2 linked regions of the Homo sapiens genome follow. The protein of the gene in region 1 interacts with the protein of each later gene in a pairwise test. Each region holds a gene or a part of one and is shown on either strand. Other genes may lie near its edges.

Region 1 (3,242 bases):
TTGAGACCAGCCTGGCCAACATGGTGAAACCCCGTCTCTATATATCTAGATATCTATCTATATAGATACATCTATATAGATATATAGATACATCTATATAGATATATAGATACATCTATATAGATATATAGATACATCTATATAGATATATAGATACATCTATATAGATATATAGATACATCTATATAGATATATAGATACATCTAGATATATAGATACATCTAGATATATAGATACATCTATATAGATATATAGATACATCTATATAGATATATAGATACATCTATATAGATATATAGATACATCTATATAGATATATAGATACATCTATATATATAGATACATCTATATAGATATATAGATACATCTATATAGATAGATACATCTATATAGATAGATACATCTATATAGATAGATACATCTATATAGATATATAGATACATCTATATAGATAGATATAGATACATCTATATAGATAGATATATAGATACATCTATATATAGATACATCTGTACTTATATTCTTCAAAAAGTTTTATTTTTCATATTCAGTTAAGTCACCTGGAATTGATAGATTTCATTAACAAAACCTGATTCATAGTATATGTGACAGGTAAGGTCTATCTAGACCAATCTGTAATTATTTATTATATAAATTTACAAGTAAGTAAGTAAGTGACTTGCCCATCCTTCAGGGACATCTTGCTTCCATGAGGCTACAGTAATCTCACTGTGGTAACATCAGGGTAGCTGTGGTCCATGGGTTAACACTGGCTAGTCATCGTTCATGCCCCCCTCCACTCTCAAGTATCCCATTTTGAGACATTACATTACAAAGTCAGCCTTGTTATAACTGCTTTCTCTTCACCATGATTACTACCTGTTGTGTGTGACCTATTTATATTCATCCACTGTTGTAACTTCCCATTCTGTTATAATAATTAATGATCCTCTGTAGAAGATCAAATGGTCTAATTTTGGTACTAACTGAACATAGTAATATTTTGGCTACAGAGACACGTGTTTACTCCTTGAGTACACCTTCTGTACAAGTCCAGTGCTCTACGGCTGATGTGTCTGTGGGACATCTAGGTGATGTACTTCCTGTACTTCTTGGTTTTTTTTTATAGCCATTTCTAACCAATAAACACACCCACTTACTGTAAAAACCTGTACACAATTTCTAAACAGTCAAAATGCTTTCCTTAGTCTATTGAAAGACAGGGTAGTGAATTATAAATGAGAGCTATCATTGCATTTCAAAGAATATAAAAATGAAGATGCCACAGGGTAAACTTTTATTTTAGAATCTAATCTTTTCCCCACACATACACAATAAATTAAACAGAATCCACAGTAAATGTACATTTTTTAACATAAAAAGTCAGTTACTGTTACTTCATGATCACATGAGGATCGTCACAGCTCCGTGTCCATTAGCACATTACCCTCCTTGTCCTTAACTCTTATCCGACCGGATCTGTACTTCGTTTCTTGATGACCGTTTGCATATACGGTTTTAACAGTGCCATCTGGGTATTCCCGTCTCTTGAACTGGGCAGTATGTAGTTCTCTTTGGCCATTATTAAACTCTATGAGTTTGTTGCCATCACTGTAAAATTTAAAAAAAATATGATTTCTTAAAAAAAAAATAATAGAAAATAAACAACAGAAAAACTACTGAAAAGTAGCCTTTTGAGTCTGGCAGCTACTTCTGGAGACATCCCTTGGTTATCCCTATACAATTGTAACTTTCTACAGTGTTTCTGCTTCATGGTGATAGTTCCAATTATCAGATTAGCATTGTTTTAATCATTCATATTTTCATCACAAAATGCTTAGTAACTTTTTTCAACTTGTGTTCTTCCTTTTGGTTGTTATATTAAAAGGGACCCTTCTTTCACTAATTTAAAAACCATCTGAGTGTTTGTTTGCTCTGTATCAGGTGGGGAAGAGAGTTAGTTATTCCTGGGAAGGGGCATGATCAGACTTAAAAATCTGTTTTGAAAGAATGGAACAAAAAAGGAGAATGTGAAAAATAATTCACATCAAGTTGACTGACATGCCTGTGGGACATTCATTCAAACTGAACCCCCTAATATGGGTGTCACATATCATCAGAAACGCAAGGCTGGGGCACCTTCTGAGCACAGATGAACAGGTGTCACACTGAGTGGTTTTTCTGTGAACATAATGTTGCCATACCGTTGTACTCTGACAATTGTACCATCTGGGAAAATGCTTTCTTCTTGTCCATCAGGAAATAAGTTTTTAACAGTCTGGTCAGGAAACGTGATTTCTTTTCTTCCATCTGGGTAATGTTTTTCTGTTTAAAAAGTTGTTACAGTAAATATTTTTTGAAGGAAGGGAAGAATTTAATGAGAGGGTGGAGCAAGTTTGTACCTATTTGTCCACTTGAGAAATGTAAGACTTCCAGTCCCTCCGGGTATGTCGTGTGAGTGGTCTGGGCAGCTGCATAGTAGTAGATCTGTAAAGACACACAGTCAGTCTGCCTTTTCTCCAGAGATGGTTAAACTATGGAGGAGAACACCTCTGGAAACATACCACTCTTTGGTCTGGCATGACCTGCTTCACGTCACCATTAAAGAAAGTGACAGTGATGGTCTTCCCATCTGCACTCACTTCCTTTCGAGTTCCATTGGGAAACAGTATAACACGGCACCCATTCTTATAAACCTTTTCCACCTAAAAAACCAACACAAGATTATCACCTAAGATTTTCTCCTGACGAAAGTATGGCTAATTCTCCTCCCAACTGCCTACTTTGAAATTTTTTGTAATAAAATGTAAAACATTCCCTCAAAAGATCCTTTATTTCGTGAGGAGTAGCAAACTCGTGATTTTCTAATTTTCTCATTCCTTTTCCATGTATTAGCTGGAATTTACCTAAAAAAGAAAACCTTCCCTTATCAACAATTTGTTACCCTAAAGTAGACTTTGTACAGGAAAGTCTAACTACTGCTTTGCCTGTTGTTCTTTGTCCTTCTCTCATTCCTCAAGGATAGCACTCCAACCCTATAATTTCAATAGAAATGGACCAGATTAGGTATTCGAAAAGTAAATTTTCCATAAACCTGAGGAAAAAATTCCCTCATCACCTCTAACCTGTATATATCCCTTTCTTCCTCATTCCCTTTAGCTGGAACCCCCAGGCAGTTTTCCCACTAAGAAACTTTCCTAAGCATAAGAATAAAACTGTGCTAGCTGGAGATGAGGAGAGAG
Region 2 (3,759 bases), on another chromosome or scaffold:
TGTATAAGACAGGGCAATGACAAAATACTGTCCATCCCATCACATATCCATCACGAGGAGATAAGATCCACTGAACTCATCTGACCAAGTCCTAGTCCATATGCTCTAATGACATTCATCAGCGTCCTAGTGTCATCCCACACTTCCGCCTCTGCTGGTCATACCCAAAGAACACAACTATATGTTGTTATTCATACCTTCTCAGTCATAGCATCATTATGTTCAAAATCTGCTGAATAATTCCCGAGGGCAACTCGAAGCAGGGCATCAAATAAAGGCTTTGCTAGTTGTGTTTCAATCACCTTTGACTGGGAAAGATGGTCCCTCATTTCAAATAATATACTTTCCACAGACAAGTTCTAAGGTAAAATAAAAGAGACTAAGAATATTAATAACCATTTTAAAAAACTAAATGATGAAAAAATAAATAATAAATATTTACTTAAGTATAAAGCTAATCCATTTATTTGCAGTTGATATGAAAGCAAAATGACTATATAAATATCTAGCTCTATACAAACATCCTGTTAAAATTAATAACATTTTTATTGATAAAATACTTAGTTCATCTTATTTGGTTTTCATTGCAGCATGGTAAAGAATGGCAAGAAATGAAGCTAAGCGAAGAAGTCAAAGCAAGACTGAAGAGTTTTGTGTGCTGTGTTAAAGCTTGTGAATTTCAATTGTGGAAATTCAGTGTGGAAGCATCAGGATTTTTTAGAGATAAGGCAACATGGAGGCTGGAACTGAAGTAGGAAGAGCCTGTTGGCTGACTGAACAGTTAGGTGTAAGTTAGTGAGGACAGAAGAGGTCTGCCATATTCCAGGTCCCTAGATTCCTTTTTAGTTGAGAAATGATCTCAGGAGAAAACTTGTAAGAATGTGAGGTAAAGCAGAAGAGGTTAGGAGAAGAATCTGGACAAAGATGTGGTTTTAGGAGAAGTCTCGTCCCAGCCTCATTTCCTGGGAAGCTCTGGAGCCTGAAGTGCCCCACAATGATTGTCCCCACTTCTTAGAGCCACATCTATCAGCATTAGCTATGAGCATCCTTCCCAGGCATCTTCCATCGGTCAAGGGTGATTCCTGGAAGATGGGTGCTGATGCGCAGATGGTGAATGGGTGATCAGTTTGGTAAAGGAGTTCTGGGCAGGGCAGCCAACAGTATCACACAAAAATTTAGATCTTTCAACTTTGAAACACAATATCCATTATTATTCATCTGACACTTATAAAATGTGTGTGTGTGTATGTGTATATATACATAAAACATAATATATACACATATATAAAAGTAATATATTATATGTTATATATAACACAATAATATATATATTACATATATTATGTAATACATATTACATTTTTTATATATATATGTGTGTGTGTATATATATGTATATATATTACATAAGAGTTGGACTAAGGACAAGGTATTACCTGATTAGGTAACTCCAATTCCATCTTCTGTTGACTAGTTCTGGCACCATGAAGACAAATGGCCAGAAGGGCTTCCAAAAGTCGTATACTTTGAAGTGAGGTCTCACTTTCTTGACTTGTAAATAGCTTTGCTTCCTCGGGAGCGGCTTCAGTAGCTGAAACTTCTTCCACATTTATGGAAGAAATATGCTGTAACTCTAATTTACCTAAACTGTCAGCACTCTTTTTTAGACTACCTAGTTCTGATGGTATGGGGTCACTTTTTATAGCCAAAGATAATAAATCTTCCTTCATAGTTCTCTTAGGTTGAGAAATTCTGTTTAAATCCTGGTTTTCATTTACACTTGTATCTCCCTCCTTTTTTCCTTGCTCCTCTTTGTGACTTCTGAACAGTTTCTGTATTATCATAAATATTAACTTATGGCATACTCGGAAACCACCAAGCCTATAAAACTGTTTCTGGAACACTGAACTCAACATGTAGATCCAACGACACATAGACCAAATGTCTGCTGCTTGGTGCATATGTTCAGGAGAAGGCAAGACAAGGCTCTCGAGAGATATACATGGCAGCATATGACTTAAAGGCTCGCTGGCTGTGCTGTCATAGCCAGAAGTATCTTCTGAGTCATTGGCCGACTCCCTGTCAGACTCTGCTTCTTTACTTACGCATAAAAAAGCCACACAGAGGAATAGGTTTATTGTGTTGATATGAACATCTTGGTTAACAGTCTTCCGTCTCTTTGGATAAGCTTCTTTGAGGCCAGCATAAAATTTGCTGAGACTCTGAGGAGAATCTGAATAAGCTTGCTGATGATGAAAAGAAGTACCCACATGTACAGAGGACAACTCCTTCTGTTCAATGTCTATCCCATCAATATCTGGAACTGAGGCATCTTTCTGTTGCTCCCCTAGGCTGATTATCAGAGTTTCAAATGCTTTTAGAGAATGACTTCGAATACCATTTAAGCAATTTAATTCGATTATTTGACTTACTCCATTACAACTCAAAAACAAATCTCTTATTACCCTGTGAAAGAAAAAAAGCATGTAAAAAGGTTTAAATAAAGAAACATCATTTATAAATAGGTACATATAATATTTAATATATCGCTATTGCATGTGGGATATACTAACCACTACCTAATTTTATTCATCAATTATCAGGCTAAAGTTCTTAGTTAGATATAATTAGGACCTCAAGTTACTTTCTAATTACTCTGATATCCTTCTTCAAACATTTGTATATATGGCTCCAGCAGTATCTAAAAAGAAAAGATTGCCTGTCCCACATTAAATGAAGCAATTCAGGGAAGAATATTTTTCTCCAAATGGCAAATTCTATATAAATTCTGAACACCACAGCCACCACCACACCTGAGGTGGACACCCTGAGGGCAGGCAAGCACGTGTTTGTTCATTAGTTTGTCCGCCTGATGGTTCACTTGGGAATTTTTGTTTACTTTAAATCTATACCTTATGAAGGGAAAGAATCACACTAGAGCTGAAAATCTACGGAAGGCTCAGCATCACATGAATTTCCCTTCTAATTGGGCTAATTGAACAGTCAATGGTACAAATATTATAAAAGTTTTTCAGCTCTGTCTCAGGTGAGACTTGTGTCTAGATCATTGGAATCCTAGTAATAACTTTAATATAAGCCAGCTAGGTGATTCTCAGCCCTTTCATCACAAAGATTCAGGTTGTCCACGAATACGCCAAAGAGTTACAAAACTTTCAAATCAGTCAGTTCTAGTTAAACAATGCCAAAATGTCAGAAAAATTTTTAAATGACTGTAAGGCATTGATTTAACATCAATAATAGTTTTAAAGTAGTTGTGCTAAGATTGACCAAAAAATGCCACACACGAAGATATTGATAGGTTATTTTTGTATAAGTTTCTAAAATGGTATATGCATTAATTTGAAAGACCAGTCTACCCATTCGTTTATAAAATTATTTTTAAATGCACCAGATTTGGCAATCACAAAGTCTGGAAAACTCACTGATAGGATTAAAAGTAATTTTAATATTCTTATTTTTGTTTATCTATATTTTCTAATTTTTCTACATATATTGCAGAGGTTATAAATGTAAATATAATATTTTAAAATTAATAATCCCATTAGTGCCTCTGCCTCAATAATCATTTTATGTATTATTTTACATGTAATACATATTTTACATAGTTGTAAATAAGTGAACACTATTTTAATTGTTTATATTTTACCCATAAGATATTATAATCATTTTCTCATATTCCAATATGATCTTTGTAAACATTTTCAATGGCCAATAATATTCTATCAAGGAAATATAAAG

Evidence for each region.
Region 2: the proteins of CPAP (region 1) and LYST interact in a two-hybrid assay, tested with the Homo sapiens proteins (one study listed by BioGRID).

Annotation. Positions count from the first base shown.
Region 1 is NC_000013.11:24,881,759-24,885,000, forward strand, and holds the end of CPAP (centrosomal P4.1-associated protein), read right to left. Parts: intron 3,036-3,242; exon of another isoform or gene 2,945-3,035; intron 2,706-2,944; coding exon 2,565-2,705; intron 2,488-2,564; coding exon 2,403-2,487; intron 2,326-2,402; coding exon 2,205-2,325; intron 1,612-2,204; coding exon 1,419-1,611; 3' UTR 521-1,418; downstream 1-520. UniProt on the Homo sapiens protein: Plays an important role in cell division and centrosome function by participating in centriole duplication. Inhibits microtubule nucleation from the centrosome. Involved in the regulation of slow processive growth of centriolar microtubules.
Region 2 is NC_000001.11:235,804,307-235,808,065, forward strand, and holds part of LYST (lysosomal-trafficking regulator), read right to left. Parts: intron 2,467-3,759; coding exon 1,437-2,466; intron 360-1,436; coding exon 198-359; intron 1-197. UniProt on the Homo sapiens protein: Adapter protein that regulates and/or fission of intracellular vesicles such as lysosomes. Might regulate trafficking of effectors involved in exocytosis.